Linked DNA regions of Homo sapiens: region 1 is linked to region 2. A link means that fine-mapping ties the variant in region 2 to the expression of a gene that starts in the linked region. Tissue or cell type: whole blood. Region 2 holds a variant in brackets; the other region holds the start of a gene. All regions are shown on one strand. Distances are from middle to middle.

Evidence for each region. PIP is the estimated chance that this variant, and not a neighbour inherited with it, causes the effect.
Region 1: it holds the start of RAB2A, and the variant in region 2 is fine-mapped to the expression of RAB2A in whole blood (INTERVAL, PIP above 0.99).

Annotation. Positions count from the first base shown.
Region 1 is chr8:60,511,516-60,522,284 of GRCh38, reverse strand. It overlaps RAB2A (RAB2A, member RAS oncogene family), which reads right to left and starts at 5,298. Exons shown (of 8, transcript NM_002865.3): 1 at 5,032-5,298. The coding sequence starts at 5,077. LOC124901949 (a long non-coding RNA gene) reads right to left here. Exons shown (of 3, transcript XR_007060922.1): 3 at 5,487-8,593. RefSeq lists enhancers at 3,865-4,054, 5,290-6,150 and a silencer at 4,845-5,714.
Region 2 is chr8:60,601,775-60,612,543 of GRCh38, reverse strand. The region is part of intron 6 of RAB2A (RAB2A, member RAS oncogene family); the gene reads right to left. Among named protein-coding and RNA genes, the nearest start is that of CHD7, 72 kb to the left of the region's middle. The variant AT/T (reference allele first, on the strand shown) is at 5,522.

The sequences.
Region 1 (10,769 bases), 90 kb after region 2:
AAAGCACTAATGTCTTCCTACCATTTCAACCAATAGTCCCTGACCTCTACTGCACATGACACTGGTAACCACTCCCTCTCTGGGATCTGCCTTCTCTGCAGATTCCATGACACTGTACTGCCCAGGTCTCTCTTGCTCTTTTGATTATTCCTTGTTAGCCTACTATGCTGATAACTTTCCCCATGTGCCCCATGAACACTAGTATTTCCCACCATTACATCCAAGCTTTCATCTGTCAATTCATTCAATGAACAATCACCACCTACTTCATTCCAGGAGGACAACTTTGTCAGATCCCCATTTGTCAATGGTTTTGCATGTGAACCAATGCTCCAAATCACTTGCATCAAAGAAACAAATGCTGCCTTGCCGCGGTGGCTCACACCTGTAATCCCAGCACTTAAGGAGGCCGAGGTGAGTGGACCACCTGAGGTCAGGAGTTCGAGACCCAGTCAGACCAACATGGCAAAACTCCATCTCTACTAAAAATACAAAAATCAGCTGGGCGTGGGGGCAGACGCCTGTAATCCCAGCTACTGGGGAGGCTGAGGCAGGAGAATCGCTTGAACCTAAGAGGTGGAGGTTGCAGTGAACCCAGATGGCGCCACTGCACTCCAGCCTGGGTGACAAGAGCAAAACTCCATCTCAAAAAAAAGAAACAAATGCTTGCAATTTTAGCATGATACATAATTTCACTTTGCAACTAATTTGAACTATATTATGATCAGCAAGCCCCTACGCCAATCAGGAGGATGGGAATTAGAAGTAAGCTTGAGTAGTTAATTTTTTAAGGTGATAACTTATTAATAATTATTTTCATATCATGAGAATTTTTCTTCCCTACATAACCTTGTAATTTCAAAAGCTCAGAAAATGAACTCTCAGGTAATAGGGACTCCATTTTATGTTATTAGCTCCCAAGTCTCTATCCCAGATTACTCTCTCCTGAGCCAGAAATAAACTTTCAACTACATACCAGACATTCCCCCATGCCCACTCTGGCGGTGCCTACTCATCATTCTAATTTCAGCTGAAACATCACCTAGTGCCTCCCCTCAAGGATCCATCCACTTAACTATTAAATAAATCTGACACTCAATGGTGTACCCTGGCATCTAAGACAAAGGCAAAGACCTTCCTAACTAAAAAGATAATTTAAAATGCAAGTGGGGCTGAGAGCTGTGGCTTGTGCTTGTAATCTGGCACTTTGGGAGGCTGAAGTGGGAGGATGGCTTAAGCCCAGGAGTTTGAGACCAGCCTGAGCAACACAGTGAGAGCCCATCTCTACAAAAATTTAAAAATTAGCCAGGCATGGTGGCATGTGCCTGTGTTCCCAGCTACTTGGAAGACTTAGGTGGGAGGATTGCTTAGGCCCAGGAGACTGAAGCTGTAGTGAGTGAGCCGTGATAGTGCCACTGCACTCCTGCCTGGGCAACAGAGATCATGTCTCAATAGATAGATAAATAATATAAGTAAAATAAAATAAAATGGAAGTGGTGGGTATATACATAAGAGTGAAAAATAAAAAATAAAATGTAAGTGGGACTGGGACTGAAGAGAAGGGAAACAGAATGAGGGAAGAGAGGAGGGGACCAGCATAAAATGCAACAGGGAGTGGTAGGATTTGTTAAACTCTCAAAAGAATGGATAAAAAGGAGTTGGCCAGGTGACAAAAATTTTTGACATAACTTTTTTTGATAGGGAAGAACAAGAAGGAGTGCTTCAGATATTAGCAGAAATAAGAACACAACCAAACCTGTGCCTTTGTTTACCTTGCTGAGCGTTGAGCAGCAGGGAGGGTTAGTGATAAGGTTAAAATGGTTGGCAGATGCTAGAATTTCAGAAGAAAAATTACTATAGATTCGTATTTTTTCTCTCCATGCTTGATAATTAACTGCTTATTAAAAACCACTTTCCACTTTACATCTAGATTTAAATGACACATTTTACTAAATGATTCAGAAACAAGACAGGAACAAGGAAAAAATTTAAAGCTACATTTTAACTGCATTTAGTCTTACAGTAAGAAAACAGCTCAATAGTATCATCATGATCATGTAAAAGTTTTTAAAACCTCTTCTATTAAAGAGGGAATTCTGAAAAGGAAAAATGTGCATTGTTCCTTTCCTTTGAGAAATCAAAGTACTTTCACATTTATCCTCATTTTATCCCACATACTGAGAGAAGGTTATAGGTTACGGAAACAGGGAAACAGAAAAATTAGGTGATTTCCTTCATTCTAAGATGCATGTTTTTGACCCTGACTTTTTAAAAAATCAAAGTGGATCTCACATTACTGATTTTAAAGTCATCTTTTCTAGGGGAGGGCCACACTGAGTGTATCTTACAACTATGGGTACACTCTGCATTAAAGAAATATGGTAAAGGATTTTGCCCAAATTAGTAAGCAAGAAGGTGGCAGAACTGGGCAACAACAACAACAACAACGACACCACTTCTGTTAAGTTATTAATATATACAAACAGGAATATAGTAGCCTGTTTGGCTCCTCTCTTATTAGTTAAATATACAGGGCCTACCTTCTACTACGCTCTTCCTGAAAGAAATACAGAGCCATACAAAACATCTTTTCTGACTTCAAGAAGTATATAATAGGTACCTACATAATAGAGGTGCCTATACAAGTATCTATACAACAGAAAAGTCTGGGATCAATATCAGAAGAATGACACAAAGTGAGAAACATAAATTCAGAAACGGAGTAGTCACTTTCAGCCAGGATACTGTGAAAATCTTCACACAATAAGAGCTTAATATATGTTGACTGTGAAGGCATTACGGAAAACTCAGATAAGACTTTGAAGGACTGATGGATCTTCCACAGGGAGAGATTGTGCCGGAAAGCACTCTAAGAATAGAGACTAGCAGTGCCCAGGAAAAAAACACCAAAATCAGTCACTGGGACTCAATGGCAGAAGCAAGGTGGGGAATAGCGGGAAAGAAGGCGAGAAATGTAGATAGGGGCTAAAATATAGAGTTCACTGAAGGTCAAACTAAAAATTGTGAGCAAACAGGAGTAGCCTTTTGACATTCATGCTTCAGGATGACTAAACTGACAGTAAACTACACTGGCTGAACTGGAGTAGGGAGAAGTACTGCTGCAGACTATAACAGTGTCAAGAATTCTGTTCCTGAACTAGGTCGTATCAGCAGCAATGACAAGAAAGAAGTGTCTTCCCTTTGAATTGCGTGGGGACTGCTTTTGGATAAGAGCAAATTCCAAGAGAACAGAGCATTAACTTGTTAGGATTTGTAGCCCCACTACTCCATGCACAATACTTTATTTATCCACAGTACAGCCTCAAATAAAAAACTGAAAAAAGGCAACCAGCAAAGTCTGATTTGAATTTTCACCACTAATGAGATAGCCAAATGCCACAGTCACAAGCTTCTATTTCTCAAACCCACTCATATTACAGTTAATGTGGCATTCCTCTCCAATCTTGTTTTTACAGCCTAAATGAAATTTTGCCAGAAGACTTTAGAATTCTCCTTCTTCCAAATACACCACAGCATTTTTCTTTTAAAGTTTACAAATCCAATTTCCACACACACACACACGCACGCACGCATCAGAAAACCTTGCTGAAAACTCATGTATCTAGCAGAAATTTTTTCTTTCAGGCAGCAATAAATATGCTTTTTTTTTTTTTTTTTTTTTTTTTTTGCAAACTCCACCTTCCGGGCTCAAGTGATCCTCCCGCCTCAGCCTCCCAAGTGGCTGGGATTACAGGCGCCTGCCACGACGCCCGGCTAACTTTTGTACTTTTAGTAGAGACGGGGTTTCACCACGTTGGCCAAGCAGGTCTCGAACTCCTGATCTCAGGTGATCCCCCACCTCGGCCTCCGAAAGTGCTGGGATTACAGGTGTGAGCCACCGCGTCCGGCCAACATGCTTCTTTAGTTACTTATAGAACCTGCCACATCATTAGTTCAACTACAAACTGCTGCTTACATGACCGAAGTTGTGCAAAGGGTCCAAAGTTGTGCAAGAGTAACCACTGAAATCAGACTCTGGTATATTAATAGTTGCAACATCTAAACAATCTTTATGTTTATTATTAGATTCAAAGTAATGCCAAATCACAGGTATTAAAAATATCTACGAAGAGTCTGTTTACTTTTCTGTGAAATATACTAGGACGTCATTTTAAGTGAGAATAACTGAATTTCTTTCAGCTCATGGACATGAGCTCACCTGAAAATTAGCAGTTGTGACACCGGACTTGACATATCTAAAACATCAGCGTCCTCAACATACACATACCTAAGTACACACCCAGAGCACTGAACGACTTTACATTACTATATAACCCCAGTTCACACGTGGCAAAAGTCCACAGAACTCGTTCATGCTTTCCTAACCCCGAAAGGGATTCTCCAGCCGTCAAGTAATGAGATGTGACTTATTCTGACGTGAGAGTTGAAGGTGTTAAAAAAGCATATTTTATATATATGTATATATATAAAATACATATTTTAAAGGTTTCCTTTTCTCTTTCTCGGCTGCCTGTCCCACGCCAAAAAGCGCCTTGCCCAGGCCTTGATAGATGCGTGCTGGTGGAGGAAGGTTGGACTGGTCAGGAACCAAGACCCGGGCCCCAACACCTTCTGCTCCCCTAGGTTTCCCTCCTTCTTTTTCCTGGGGCCGCGAAGAGACCTAACGCAAGGGGCCCTGGGGGTGGGGTGCAGTCATGTGAGTCGGGCCCCGGCGGCCCTGCGCTAGGCCTCCCCTCCTGTCACACACTTCCTGAATCGGGCGTCGCAAACGGCTGCCACGGCCCTCAGCTGCAAGACTGGCCGGGTCGGGGGCCGCAGACCGGGCCTGGCCAGGCCGCGGCCGCTCGCAGTGCCCACGTCACCAGCTCCAGCACTGCGGAAATGGAGCGGCGCGGCCAGGAGGGAGGCGCCGGGTGGAGTCCGCGTCCCCGCCACCGCCAGACGCCGTTTGCCCCTCAGCCCGGGTCCGGAGGCCGCCGACACCCGCCCGGCCGCGCCCGGGGCCCTCACCTGTGTCGCCGATTATGATGTACTTGAAGAGATAGGCGTACGCCATGGCCGCGGCCGCTCAGTGCCAGGGCACACGGCTCCTCCTCCCGCTGCTGCTCCTCCTCCGCGCCCCAACCCCGGTGCCGCTCAGCCTCGAAACGCCAGGCGCCGCCCGCCGCCGCCGCTGCTGCTGTCAGCCGCCGGGAGTGAGGGGCTGTGAGGAAGCCGGACGAACTGACACCCGCAGAGCCGAGGGAGACAGCGCCCGACCGAGCCCAGCCGAACAATAACAGCCGCCGCGGCGCCTCCGCCCCGCCTCCGCGCCGACCCGGAAGTTCTGCGGCCGCCGGCGCCGCCGGAGGAAAGGGGAGGAGCCCCGCACGCTGGCCCAGCCCTGCACGCTGGCCGCGCCCCGCCAGCCGGAGCCCCGCCCCGCCCCGCCCCGCGCCTGCCTTGCCCGGTCCGCCCTGTCTTCCAGCAGGGCGGGGCCCGGCTCCGGTTGTTCCGCCACGTTTGAGCGGGCGAGCCCGGCGGCCGGGAGACGCCAGGGAACGGGGCTGGTGGGGGTACAAAGGCTCGGTTCCGTCGCCTTCAGCCCTGCGGTGGGGGCACGGGGCAAGTGAGGGGACGGCAGAGGCGGCGTTCGGTGTGAGGCTGCGCCCTGGGCTCCTGAAAATGTGTGTGAAAATGTGGGAGGCACACGGCGAGGGGGTGGGGGTGGCCTGGTATTTCTGTGTTTGGCATCGGGGCTTGAAGGTGAAAATGGCAGTATTTATAAATTGGAAACCGTAAATCTGGGACTGCAAAGTAAATCATGGTATGCACGCACAGTGGAGTACTACGTTGCTCTCACCTGAGGTCAGGAGTTCGAGACCAGCCTGGCCAACATGGCGAAACCGCGTCTCTACTAAAAATACATTAGCCGGGCGTGGTGGTGCTCGCCTGTAATCCCAGCTACTCGGAGTCTAAGGCAGGAGAATCACTTGAACCTGGGAGGTGGAGGTTGTAGTGAGCCGAGATTGAACCACGGCACTCCAGACTGGGCGACAGAGCGGGACTCCGTCTCAAAATAATAATAGTAAATAAAAAATAAATAAAGTCTCTGAACCTGTCCTGGTTCTGAGGGCTGCTCTAAAAAAAAAAAAAAAAAAAAAGCCTGACTTAGGTTAAGCAAAACCGAGATGATCTGTTTATGTGTGTGTATATAACATGCACCATATGTAATATATGAATTGTATATAATTTTTATGTGTAACAAATAGTGGGAAAACATTTACATACCCATATATGCATAATCAATCTGAAAGGAAAGCTAACTGGTATTAAGAGAAAGGAGGGAATGGGATTGGGGGGAAAATGTACTTTTCCCTGAATTTTTTTGTGCAGTTTGACATTTTTTGCAGTGTTCATGAGTTACCTATTAGGAAATACTGTTAAAGGAAAAAACAAAATGACTGTGCATTCAAAGAATAGTTATTGAATACTATGTTTCATGTACCGCCAGGCACAGCAACTGGAGGCCCTGTATGTTCTATGTTCTGTTTTTCTACTTTGCTTTTTCAGTCATCCAGCCCAAAATGTCACCACTCTGTTCAAAAAGACCACAGGTTATGGAAGAGGAGGTGGAGAATAGGGTGTCAGGAAAGGTTACTTAGAGATTATGATTTCTGAGCCAGGAATATGAATTATGTATAGAGTTTGTCGAAAGAACAACAGTTTGGGGAGGGGAACCAAAGTTTATGGACAAGGAACAGAATGTGCAAAATTCCTGGATCTGTTCAGGGAATTTGAAGTTGCATAAGGAAGCTAATTGACTAACTCATATCCTCATAACCCATAACCTCATATTGAAGGAGAATCATTGCTGGGGAAAAGCGATTGGGATTTAGTGGCCCTCGTTCCTGTTGCCTAATACTCTTCTCTTTGGGGCCTCTCATTATGTAATTAGTACTGACACCATCATGCTGGGTTGCTAACATGCTTTGGATGGCCTTGCCAAATATGAACTCACAAGGTTTTTCTGGAATATTTGGAGGGGATTTTACTAAAGGGTCAGAGATGGCACGGAAGAATTTGACATGAAAATTTGACATGAAAAGCTACCTGGAATCGCAAAATTTGGTTCATTCACCTTTAGTTTGAGGAAGGGGAGGTCCCTGCCCAAGGCCTCCAGTTTTCAGATGTCATTTTGTCCCTCCCACTTGAGTGCCTTCACCCAAGTCTTCCTTGGTGATGGAGAAACTCAAGTCTTCACTCTCACAAGATAGAGGGATGTGGCCTTCCTTCACCAGCACAACTCTATTAGGATGTTATACAAATGCCTGGCATCCTAGGAGTCAGGAGTATTCCTACACTGTTAGAGGAGGAGAGTACCTGGAGAGGTCTCTTGTGCCAGGTTATGTAGGGCCTTGTATGTTATGTCACCATGCATTTAGAACTTTACTTAGTAGACAAAGGAAATTGTGACAGGAAATGGTCAGAACTGGGTATGTAACAAAAATCATAGAAATGGATATAAAGCTATAGAGGCAATGTGTTATAAGGAAAATAGGATACCTGGCTTCTGGTCTTGGCTCTACCTGTAACTGATCGGATGAATGTGAGGAATCGTTTGGCCTCTTAAAGCTTCAGAGCACAGGTTGCGATGGCTTGTGCCTGCGGTCCCAGCTACTTGGGAGGCTGAAGAGGGAGGATAGCTTGAGCCAAGCAGTTTGAGGCAGCAGTGAGCTAGGATGGTGCGACTGCACTCCAGCTTGGGCTATAGATTGAGACCTTGTGTCTTAATAAATAAAATAATTATTAAAATAAAAATAATTTAAAAAATTATGAGTGGTTCAGTGCACTTGTCTATTAAGTAAAGGAGTTAAGTGTTTCTTAAAAGGGCTATTCCAAGCATGACGTCTTTTAATTTTATGCTTAGCCAGCCTCCAAATCTAAAGCCATCTGTAAAGAAGGTAGTAATCCTCTCGTGAAAATGCAGGGGCCATAGATGTCAAATGCATATTGTTCTGATTGATTGATTGATTGATTGAGAGGAGGTCTTGCTCTGTCATCTAGGCTGGAGTACAGTGACCCAGTCATGGCTTACTGCTGTCTTGACTTCCTGGGCTCAGGTGATTGTCCTGCCTCAGCCTCCTGAGTAGCTGGGATCACAGGCACATGCCACCACGCCTATATCATTTATTATTATTATTATTATTTGGAGAGATGGAGACTCCCTCTGTTACTCAGGCTGGTCTTGAACTACTGGCCTCAAGCAATTCTCCCACCTTGAAGAACAGGATTTTCAAGTTCTTCTCTGGGCTTCAGTTTCCTTATTTGGAATATGTGGATAATAACTGCTTAACAAAGTCCATTTAGGATCAAATGAGATAATGTATGTGAAAATACTGTGTAAATTATGAAAAATGTATACCTAATACATAAAACTCTTTGCACTGCATAATTTTTGGAAATTACTTGAGGGGCTGAGTGCGGTGGCTCATGCATGTAATTCCAACACTTTGGGAGGCAAAGTCTGGAGGATCCCTTGAGCCTTGGAGTTCAAGAAGATCAGCATGGGTTACATGGTGAGATCCTGTCTCTACAGAAAATTAAAAAGAAAAAAAAGAAATTAACTTGAGGAACTAAAGGCCTAATCACTATATAAATTCATGGTTTAAAATTAAGTTTGTTCCTGGCTCTATTTTATGTCTCTACCTTTTTTCCTATGTATGATTCATAATATTTTGTTATATTTTCTATAAACCTATAATCTCTTAAATCTTCGAAAAAATACAGGGTATAAATAAAAATCACATAAACCTCATTTAAAACATTTTCTTTAGCCCATAAAAATCCAAACATATTTTTCAAGAAAAGTCCCCCAGACAAAATAACAGAAATAAACCTCTCTTCCATTAAATATAGTATACTTCCTGGAATTTTCCATTCAGTTTGATTTTCGGCTATTTTCAGTCTCTTAGGATGTGTTGTGGTAACTCTGTCTCTCAGCCTTACATCATATATGGTCTGAAGGTCATAACTGTGAAATTTCAAGATTGTAGCACTACATTCTTCAGTGTCTCCTAATCAAGTTCTCCATGACATTTTTGAGTACAATACTATATTAGAAGTTTGCATTTGCTTCTCCCAACTAAACTTTCATGTTTATATTTTCTTTGGTTTTAATTACTCTCAGGCTTTGGGAAGAGGGATAGGGTGGAGTGGAATGGGAGAAGGTGGTTGGGAATACTGTAATCTTGAGGTTTTTGCCTTGGTTTCCATGGTTCCTTAGCCACTCCTTCTGAAATGGTATGCAAAACTGATAATGATGTATATATTTGCACATGTACACTTTTATGGGAGAGATTCTTCCATGACCCAGAAATAATTAAGAACAATTGTGAAATGCCTTCCTTCAGCCATCTCCAAGTACCATAACAGAACTAATTTTCCAGCAAATACTTAAACTCAGTACCAGTTTGTTTGTTTGTTTGTTTTTTAGAAAAAGTCTCTCTCTGTCACCCAGGCTAGAGTGCAGTGGTGCGATTTCAGCTCACTGCAAGCTCCACCTCCTGAGTTCAAGCGATTCTCATGCCTCAGCCTCCCAAGTAGCTGGGACTGTAGGTGCACACCACCATACCCGACTAATTTTTGTATTTTTAGTAGAGATGGGGTTTTGCCATGTTGACCAGGCTGGTCTCAAACTCCTGGCCTCAAGTGATCCACCTGCCTTGGCCTCCCAAAGTGCTGGGATTACAGGTGTGAACCACCACACCGGAACTCAGTACCAGTTTTGGAAGAAGAAATAATTAGATTCAAATCCTGACTTTACCACTCAACATCAGTTGAGTGATCTTTGATAGATTACTAAATGCTCTAAGCCTTAGTTTCCCCTCTGAGATGACATATATAAAATGTCTAGCACTATGTCAAGCACACAGAGGACACTTCTTAAACATTGAGGTTGTTTCCCCCTTCCTTTCCTCTCCTCCTTGTCCTCCTCCACCTTCAACCTGTTAATAAGAACTGTAGCTGCAAAGGAAATATATCTCTCCCTCTGCCCCAACTCTCACAACTGGCAATAACAAAAAACAAAAAACCACAGGAGGCTGGGCGCAGTGGCTCATGTCTGTAATCCCAGCACCTTGGGAGGTCGGGGCAGGTGGATCACCTGAGGTCAGGAGTTTGAGACCAGCCTAGTCAACATGTCAAAATCCCATCTCTACTAAAAATACAAGAATTAGCTGGGCATGGTGGCACGCACCTGTAGTCCCAGCTACTTGGGAGGCTGAGGCAGAAGAATCACCTGAACTCGGGGGTAGTTGCAGTGAGCTGAGATTGTGCCACTGCACTCCAGCCTGGGCGACAGAATGAGACTCAGTCTCTAAAAACAAACAAACAAAAAAAACCATAGGAGTTAAATGAGCCCAACAAGGACCCTGCCTTAAAGGAGAGTTGTCTTGTGCTAAGTCATAAATAACTTTGGCCTGATGAAGGCTACAGGAGAGGAGCTCTATTATTTTAGAGAGTACAATTTTTTGGGGGTGAAATGAGGGTAGGTTTTGCAGAGGGAGAGTCTTTTAAGCTGGGTCTTCAAGGGCATTATCTTTTATAGCTATTGTCTTAGCGTAGTCATTCCAGGTGCTTCAACAACCCTCCTTATTGTACTTGGTTTTTCTCATCTACTTGATATGCCATTTCTAGTCTAGTTGGATAACATTCTTAGTAATATTTCTTGTTTTGCTTTTCCACTCATGACCTATTTCTGGTTAGCT
Region 2 (10,769 bases):
TGTTGCAGTTAAAAATGAACATAAAAAGCATATACTTCCTACATCCTTTAAAACCCTTTTAGCTAGAAATTATATTGGATTTCTAGGATTATTTTTGGAAGTATATAAAATTTGTATTATTTACATCTTTTGTCTCTTTCCTACCCTTTACAAAAATTAGTATCACCAGTATCAATGCTAATTAAAGGAAAGTAGGGAGCCTAAACACATCTTAATTTTAGCAGGAAACTGAAGAGGGGAAGAAACTAGAACTATTTGATTAGAAAGGTTTGGGGAATATGGCATTTAAGAATTTCCTGTTCCTAGAAAACCAAACACTGCATATTCTCACTCATAAGTGGGAGTTGAACAATAAGAACACATGGACACAGGGAGGGGAACATCACACACTGGGACCTGTAGGGAGGTTGGGGAAAAGGGGAGGGAGAGCATTAGGACAAATACCTAATGCATGTGGGGCTTAAAACCTAGATGACAGGTTGATAGGTGCAGCAAACCACTATGGCACATGTATACCTATGGAACAAACCTGTATGTTCAGCACATGTATCCCAGAACTTAAAAAAAAATAGTTGTTTATTTTAGGGTTTGTTGCTGCAGCATAACATAGCAACAGCTGCGCAATGCAGATTAATAATTGGTTTTCTATGTAAACTTAATAGTTTTAAAAATCATAAATATTGCAGCATTTTACTCTTCAGTACTGAGTATACTGAACCAATGACTGACGTTTTGTAATTCAAGTGGATTTAAACTTAGCTCATAAAGAAAAATTTTACTCCAAGTTATTCTTAGAATGCTTATTTATATTCAAAAGTAAATATTAAAATGTTTTCAATTAAAAAAAGAATTTCCTGTTCCTACTTTCTGTCAGAGGTAACACAAAAATGTTTAATTCCTTAGCAATTTAGTTCTTCCATTTAATAAGCATTTCCTGAGTGCTTGATTTGTACCAGGCACTGAGGACACTCAGATAAATATGAATACCTTACATCTCAAGGATGTGGTATATAGGATAGATATGCATCCAATATGCGAACATAGAAGAAAAACCTTCAGTTGCTTAGATGAATAAGGTAGCATGACCACTTCTGAGAGAGAAAAGCCCTGCAAGTGAAGGCCTGAAAGACAGGTAAGCTCCCACTCATATATTAGGAAAACTGAGGGGAAGAAGGGCATTCTGGACAGAGGAGCAGATTTTAAGTTCAATTCTGTTGGAAGCTGAGGACGGCCAGGAACGTGAGATAAAGTTAGAGATGTGGCCCTATAGGCAGAGGAACCCTGAAAAGGTAGGAAGCAGGGGAGGGACAAAATCAGAGGAGAGTTTAGAGAATGAATCACAAGGGGGCGATACTGGCCACAGGGAGACTGAGGAGTCCAGAGCAATGACCCAAGAAAGAAAGGTCAGATGGTGGCAACGAGAATGAATGGCAAAGCTCAAACCTAATATCTGTTGTGAAGAAATTAACAGGACTTTAAGTGACAGAGTAAAATGGTGATATGTTTATGGATGACTCCGCTTTTGGTTTAAGTGATGAGATAAAAGGGTATACCATGAATTGAGATAAATTAAAAAGGAAGAAAATCAGTTTTCAAGGAAGGAATGAAAAATTTCTTTTAGACACGTGGAATTCTAATACATCGTACAAGTGGGAAACTCTTGGTAGATGGCGATCTATATAATTGTGCACTTATATGGGAATATAAGCTACAGATAAATGTGAGTGTGTAAGTATATGACATGCATTTATTAGCATAATTTTCTTGGGTAATGTTTAGCCACCCTGGTTTAGAAGTACAGAAAATGGATGCAACTTTCAAAGTCAGAGTTTGGATCATCTATGAAGTTCCGGGGATGATGGCCAAATTAGAGGTGAAGAAGCTGATGCTAGTCAGCCAAGTCTACCAAAATGTGGAGGAGAGTGGTAAATATTTATTAAACTAAGCTATCCTCAAGGGATACTGGAAAACTGCTGAGGAAGGCCAGGTCAGATTTCCACTGAAGTCTTGTGGTATGCATCCATGGGCTTAACACTCAGAATAGATTTAAGGGGGAAACAAAGCCTTCAGTTTACAACCTCATTACAGCTACATAAAAATACTCATTCCACCAGTTACAACAAAGCCCAAGACAAGATGGTCCCTCAATGCAAATAAAGTCTACAGACTTTCAAGTACTGAGACAGAATGCAGGTATTAGCAAGGGGACTTGAAACTGGTAGTCTTCCTAGTTACTAATGTCTTAGTAAGTCATGTGTTCTCTCTGGACATAGAAATTCATCTATCCTGTCAGTTTAGGTGGCTTGGTGGGTTACTGCAATCTGTCTTAGGGTTAGCTGGTTGTATTTTCAGCTATAGTCTTGGTGGTATCTAGTACTTCAGTAGCATAAATACTTCAGCAGCATAAGCATAAGGCTTCTGGGAAGGGTGGGGGTTTACCTAGCCTGCCATTATGACATGAACATCTCTCCACCTAAAAAGGCCTTTTCAAACCACAAAGATTCCAGGCAGCTACTGAAGGAAGAAGCACCTGATGAGAGGCCAATTTGCTTGTCTGGATTTTTTTTTTTTTTTTTTTTTTTTGAGACACAGGGTCTCCCTTTGTTGCCCCGGCTGGAGTGCAGTGGCATGATCTCAGCTCACTGAAGCCTTGCCCTCCTGAGCTCAAGTGATCCTCCTACCTCATAGCTGGGAGTACAGCAGGCGTGTCCCACCATGCCTGGCTAATTTTTTATTTTTTTGTAGAGATGAGGTTTTGCCATGCGGGCCAGGCTGGTCTCAAACTCCTGGCCTCAAGTGATCTGCCCACCTTGGCCTCCCTAAGTGTTGGGAGTATAGGTGTGAGCTACCATACCCAGCCTCACCTGGATTTTCTAAAATCTCATGTTTTAAAATGCTTGGGCAAAGATAAGGTTTAGGACAGAATTCTACCTACATGTAACAAATGGGACCAAAGCATAACCAGAATGAAAGACTGAAGGAAGAAGAACATGGTTGAAGCAAATACATACTTACTCATCCAAACTTTTGTTATCTACCATGTGGGGGTTGCAGAAATGAAAAGAGTCTGTGTCTTTAAAGAACTCAATCCTTTTGGTGGGCCGACATGACAAACAAGTGCAATGATATCATACTAAGGTGAATTCATGCCCAGGACAACACAGGAATAAGGAGAAGAAGAAGTCTATCAATTCAGATGTTGTGTGTGGTGGCTGGTGGCAGAAGGAAGACATGCTGGTGTCATGGAACACATTCCAGAGGAGGGATCAGACTTAACCATACCCTTGGAGGATCAAGTCGGAAGGAAGGGCATTTCAAGTGCAGAGAATACTTTTTTGTGGAGAAGGGGAGAGAACACTGTAAAGCTGATCGACTCCTAGTTTACTATGGAGAGCATATGGTGTGAGGGGTTGGCAATCAAAGCATCCTGCATGCCAAGCTAAGGAGTTTGATGCTGAAGCTGTGGGGAACCACTGCATGGTTAATAAAACTGGAGAGAGACATTCAACCTTCATTTTTAGAAAGATCCCAGAGGTCACAGTGTAAGGGACTGAAAAATGAAGACAGGAAGTCCAATTAGGATACAATTATGACAGAAGACAATTTGGAGAGATATTTAATAGGCAGAAACAATAACAGGTGAAAAGTGATACGTATTAACTGAATAAATCAATGTCAAGGGGTAAGAGAAAGAACACTATAGAATAGAGGATCTGTAGACTAGAATAGAGAAGGGCTATCAGTTCAGCTGGATGTGTTAAATCGGAAGGGTGTGAAGATCACTCAGCACAACTGTCTAGGCAGCAGCTGTCAGGGTGGAGCTGAACATACAGCCTAAAATGGTACCTGAAGTAACAGACTTAGGTGATATCTCAAAGTGGAACAAAGAACTGGTAAAAAAAATCTGGGGAAGGCCAGTGAGGTGGGGTGGGGGTAAAGGAAGAGGGAGGGAGGGAGGGAGAGGAGGAGAAGGAGAAGGAGAAGGAGAGAGAGGAGAGAGAGAAGGAGGAGAAGGAGAGGAAGAAGGAGAGGAAGAAGGAGAGGAAGAAGGAGAGGAAGAGGGAGAGGGAGCAGGACCGGGGGCGGGGAGACACAGAGAGAGAGAGAGAAAGAGAAAAAGAAAGAAAACGGTGTCATGGAGCTAAGAAAGAAGTTTACTGAAGAGTAGTCAAAAGTATCAAATATTCCCAAAGGACTGTTTAAGCTAAGAACAGAAAAGCAGAAAAAAAAAGGTATAATTCTTGCTTTTTGGGCGCCTATACAGTCATCATTACTGTTAACATTTTGGTGTATTTTCTTCTAGCCTTTACATATTATGCATGATATGTTTTTATTATTCTTTTACTTATTCTCTATTTTGCAAGCTTTCTTTCATGCAATTACTTTTTTATAATAAACTTTTTCTAAAAGTAAAAATAAATACCAAAACAAACAAACAAACAAAAACCCAGAAAAGTATTTGTTAGTTGTGGCTTTTAGGAAGACCAGGATGACCTTGGCCGTGGTGGAAGAAGTCAGACTATGAAGACAGGTGAGAAAAAGAACAAGGAAATGGAGACAGCTCTTAATAGAAGCCAGAAGGAAAAACATCCAGGAGAAATGGAGTGAAAGGATTTTATAAGATGGTTGAAACTTAATTACATGCTGGGAGCCAAGAATCAATAGAGAAGGAAAGGGTGAATATAATGAGATGGTTTGAAGCAATAACATCTCTGAGGAAATGGGAGGAGACAGCACTCTGCCTGATTGTCCTGTGATAGAACAGACTGGACTCCTCTACAGCCTCTCTATCTCTTCAGAGTGTGACCCCTGGATCAGCAGTATCTACATTAGTTGAGGACTGGTTACAAATGCAAGCTCCCAGGCCACACCACAGATCTACTGAATCAGAATCTGCATTTTAACAGAATTCTTAAGTGTACATTAGTATTTGGGAAGCTCTGGTCAAAAAGACAACTGACTTAGGTAGGCTGGGCATGGTGGCTCATGACATAATCCCAGCACTTCGGGAGGCCGAGGTGGGAGAACTGCTTGAGCCGAAGAGTTTGAGACAAGCCTCGGCAACATAAGAGAGACACTGTCTCTACAAAAACCTTTTTTTTTTTTTTTTTTTTTGAGATGGAGTCTCGCTCTGTCGCCCAGGCTGGAGTGCAGTGGCGCGATCTCGGCTCACTGCAAGCTCCACCTCCCGGGTTCATGCCATTCTCCTGCCTCAGCCTCCTGAGTAACTGGCACTACAGGTGCCTGCCACCACGCCCGGCTAATTTTTTGTATTTTTAGTAGAGACAGGGTTTCACCATGTTAGCCAGGATGGTCTCGATCTCCTGACCTTGTGATCTGCCCGCCTCGGCCTCCCAAAGTGCTGGGATTACAGGTGTGAGCCACTGTGCCCGGCCCAAAAAAATCTTAAAAAAAAAAAAAAAAAAGACAATTGACCCGAAAAAAAGAAAAGTCTTATGAGGCATTCTTAGTTTAGCTTAAAAAAGAAAAAGCAGTCTCCATGCACCCACCACAACATATA[AT/T]AGTGACCATGAAATAAGAGAGTAAGCAAAATAACACAGACATCAGTCCATGGTATGTTAAGAGATGTTACGCATCCCCCGCCAATTCCAATTTTAGGCATTTCAGAGACTTTCCAGGAGCCCAACCCATCACAGGCCTGGAGGCCCTAAGAGGGAAGAACAGTTTTGTAGGTCAGGCCACGGCCCCACCACCTGTGTTGCCTCAGGACACTGCTTGTGTATCTCAGCCACTCCAGCTCTAGCTGCAGCTCAAAAAGGCCCAGGTATAGCTTGGGCAACTGTTAGAAAAATTTGTCGACTTTTACTTAATCCAGATTTTCCAAGTATTACTTGTGTATACAATAAATATCTATGTGGTTGTATATTAGTGTTATTAATGTAGTATATGATAGTACTCTCTCTCTCTATGATCCTGTCTTGAGAAATTCTTCCCGCTAAGTAACACCTAGTTTAGGAAGACTAGGGCATTTTATTCTTATGCTCTTTGGAAATAAACTTCAAAGTGTTGTCTTGGGTGCCATTTTAAATTTAAGATCCTAGTTCAAGATAGGCAGCATAAATTCAGGTAAGAGCAAAACAGTTGGAATATCAGAGGTATAGTTAAAGGATCTGGGTACCAATATCATCTGGACAGATACTAAAATATTTAAGAGTATTCACTGTAGGATTCACAGGTCAGAGACAGCTCCAAAAATAAAAGTGGTGTCACTTCCTAACAGTACTTCCTAGTCTTTACTCCCTCCTTGCTCAGGGTATCACTGAAATGAAGCATTTTATATACATGTATTAGTCCCTTTTGCCTATGAGTCTTTACTCCCTCCCAGCTCAGGGTGTCACTGAAATGAAGCATTTTTGTTTGTTTGTTTGTTTTCTAAGACGGAGTCTCACTCTGTCACCCAGGCTGGAGTGCAGTGGTGCAATTTGAGCTCACTGCAACTTCCGCCTCCCTGATTCAAGTAATTCTCCTGTCTCAGCCTCCTGAGTAGCTGGGACTACAGGCGCAAGCCACCACGCCCGGCTAATTTTTGTATTTTTAGTACAGATGAGGTTTCACCATATTGGTCAAGCTGGTCTCGAACTCCTGACCTCAGGTGATCTGCCCGTCTTGGCCTCCCAAAGTGCTGGGATTATAGGCGTGAGCCACCACCCCCAGCTTGAAATGAAGCATTATATATATATATGTATATATGTATTAGTCCCTTTTGCCTATGAGCCTGTAAAATAAATAGTTAGCTACTTTCAAGATACAATGGGGACACAGGCATTGGGTAAATACTCCCATTCCAAAAACGAAAAATTGGCCAAAAGAAAGGGGCTATAGGTGCCATACAAGTTCAAAACCCAGCAGGGCAGTCATCAAATCTTAAAGCTCCAAAATAATCTTTTGACTCCATGTCCCACGTCCAGGGCACAGGGGTGTGATGGGTGTGCTCCCAAGGCCTTGGGCAGCTCCACCACTGTGGCTTTGCAGGGTTCAGACCCCACCACTGCTCTCACTGGCTGGCACTGAGTGCCTGTGGCTTTTCCAAGTGATGGGTGCAAACTGTTGGTGTATCTACCATTCTGGGGTCTGGAGGACGTGGTCATCTTCTCACAGCTGCACTAGGTGGTGCCCCAGTGGGGACTCTATGTGGAGCACCAAGCCTACATTTTCCCTCTGCACTGCCCTAGAAGAGGTGCTCTGTGAGGGCTCCACCCCTGCAGTAGGCTTCTGCCTGAACATCCAAAGTTTTCCATACATTCTCTGAAATCTAGGCAGAGGTTTCCAAGCCTCAACTCTTGGACTCTGTGCACCCACAGGCTTACCACCACATGGAAGCTACCAAGGCTTGTGGCTAGCACCCTCTGAAACAGTGTCCCGAGCTCTTCCTGGGCCCCTTTGAGCTACAGCTGGAACTAAAGTGGCTGGGATGCAGGGAGTAGTGTCCTGAGGCTGTGCAGGGTGGTGGGGCCCTGACCCTGGCCCTGACCTACAAAACCATTCTTCCTTCCTAGGCCTCTGAGCCTGTGAGGGAGGGGCTCCTGTGAAGTCTCTGAAATGCCTTCCAGGCCTTCTCCCCATTGTCATGGCTATTAGCATTTGGTTCCTTTTTACTTATGCAAATTTCTGCAGCCTGTCTGAATTCCTCTCCTGAAATGGACTTTTCTTTTCTACCACATGGCCAGGCTACAAATTTTTCACCTTTATGCTCTGCTTCCCATTTAAGTCTAAGTTCCAGTTTCAGGTCACTTCTCTGCTCACACATATGAGATAGGCTATTAGAGGCAACCAGGCCACATCTTCAATGCTTTGTCGCTTAGATAATTTTTCCGCCAGATATCTTAAATCATCACCATTCAAGTTCCAAGTTCCACAGGTCCCTAGGGCAGGGGCACAACGCAGCCAGCTTCCTTGCTAAAGCATAACAAAAGTGACCTTTGCTCCAGTCCCCAATAATTTTCTAATCTCCATCTGAGACCTCCTCAGCCTGGGTTTCATTGTCCACATCATTATCAGCATTTTGGTCACAATTCAAGCAGTCTCTAAGAAGTTCCAAATTTTTCCTCATCTTCTGAGCCCTCCACACTCTTCCAACCTCTGCTCATTACCCAGTTCCAAAGTTGTTTCCACATTTTGAGGTATCTTTATAACAAAGCCCCACTCCTCAGTACCAATTTTCTGTATCAGTCCTTTCTCCCGCTGTTATAAAGAAATACCTGAGACTGGGTAATTTATAAAGAAAAGAAGTTTAATTGTATCATGGTTCTGCAGGCTGTACAGGAAGCATGATAGTGGTATCTGCTCAGCTTCTGGGGAGGCCTCAGGAAACTTACAATCATGGCACAAGGCAAAGGGGGAGCGAGGCACTTCACGTGACCACAGCAGGAGAAAGAGAAAGAGGTGGGAGGTACTACATGCTTTTAAACAATCAGATCTCATTAGAACTATCACAAGAACTGCACCAAGCGGTATGGTGTTAAACCACTCATAAGAAACTGCTCCCGTGATCTAATCACCTCCCACCAGGCCCCACCTCCAACAATGGGGATTAGAATTCAATATGAGATTTGGGCAGGGACACAGATCCAAACCCTATCTGTCTGTCTATCAATCAAGCATCTATTTTCTTTCTTCTTTTCTTTTCTTTCTTCTCCTCCCTCTCCCTCTCTTTCTGTCTTTTTAAATAGAGACAGGGTCTTGCTATGTTGGCTAGGCTGGTCTTGAACTCCTGGCGTCAAGTAATCTTCCTGCTTCAGCCTCCCAAAATACCAGGATTACAGGCATAAGCTATGACATTTGCACTCATTTTTAATAATAATATCATAGCACCATCCCTCCTATTACTAAGTGAATAAAGGGGATTCATATATTATGCTGAGTGGGTGCTTCATTTCCTTGAGTTGAACTGTGTTTTATTATTCTAATTCAGTGTTTCTCAATCTCAATACTGCTGACATTTTGGACGAGATAATTCTGTGTTATGAGGAGATATCCTTTGCATTCATTTACCACGTTGCCTCTTTTCCCCCTCAACAGATCCTTCTTGGATGAAATCATAAAGCTGATTAATAGGAAATCTATAGACTAATAGTAAACTTATTTCCAGCAACAACACAGCTAGTGCTGGAACAAAGCTGTTGTTATCTTATGCTGTAAATTATCCAATCCCTTACAGGGAACTGTAACAGTTAAACTTCATGGTGTCCACTTGTATTACAGTAACTGGGTCTTGGTGAACATGTATAAATAGACTACAGCACAACATCAAAAGGAAACAGGTCCAATTCTAAACATCATCAATGTGCCATTTATATTTAATCTTAACAAATAATAATAGTCTAAAAAATCTTTTAAGAGGGTTCCCTGTGCATTAAAATTTCTCTACACATAGGTGCCAAGGATCAGCTGGGTTGTGAATAATTCTCAACAGATTATAAAAAACAGGATGATGACCTTCTCTGAAATGTCCCAACACCAACCACCACTGTCACTAGACAAGTGGGATGTGTCATTAGAATACCTGCCTTATTCTTAACCCATCACATGATCAGCTCTCATAGAAGAGAGTCCTCCAGAGAGCAAGCTGAGGATAGATCCTGTCTGAGCCCACGGTCAGTTTCTACCCACTGTGCTAAACCGCCTCTCCCATAGAGCTCTGCTTATTCTCCTAAGGAACAAAAGGATGGCATAGTTAGGCAAATCTGAGCCCTTGAAAAGCAAAAACATAAGGCATAGCACTTAGAACAAACTTCCCCATAATTACTGTAATTGCTGTTTCTTTCTAAGTCCAAGGGTCAACCTGATCAAGAATCAATGGGCCATGCATGCCTAACATTTACCTCCTTGGATCTAATTCTGCAGGATAATTCTTGCTTAAATCTCTGAGACAGTATATTGTAATTTGTCAGCAGCATAGTTTGGTCTTGGCTCTCCTGCCATAGGAACTGATGGTGAATGCCTATCAAAAGGCAGATACCAAATAAGTGCTGGTTTAGTTCTCCTCCTTCCTACTTCTCTAAGGAGGAAGAAACCCTTTTGTTAGTCTTCCTTGATCCCAAATAAACTAAATACTTGTTTTCCAATATTACTTGTTGAATGAAATAAAAGGGATGACATTAAGACTTTATATTAGATATTAAGGAATTGCTGTTAAGTTATATATGATAATGGTATTGTGTTATATTTTTTAAAATTACTTATATCGAAATATTTATAGGTAAAAATATTTCTGGCATTTGCTCAACAAATGGGATATAAGACTCAAAATGTCTACACGGTGGTAACTTCTAAAACTAGATGATGTCTATAAGGGTTTACTTTTTTAAGTGATAGTACCGATTAAGTTAATTTTTAAGAGCAGGCTGCCCAGGCACAGTGGCTTGAGCCTGTAATCCCAGCACGTTGGGAGGCTAAGGTGGGAGGATATCTTGAACCCAGGAGTCTGAGACCAGCCTGGGCAACATGGCAAGACTTTGCCTCTACAAAAAAAAAAAAATTAGCTGGGCATGGTGGCACACACCTGTCATTCCAGCTACTTGGGAGGCTTAAGCAGGAGGATCACTTGAGCCCAAGAGGTTGAGGCTACAGTTCAAACCACAGTACCCCAGCCTGGGTGACAGAGTGAGACCCTGTCTCAAAAAAACAAAATAAAATGAGGCTTAACACCAGCTCTATCAACTTCATTGTGAGCCTACCAAAATGCTTTGATATACATGATGTAGAAAAATAAGCTAATGAATAAAAGTGTATTGTCCTAAAAATGCCTT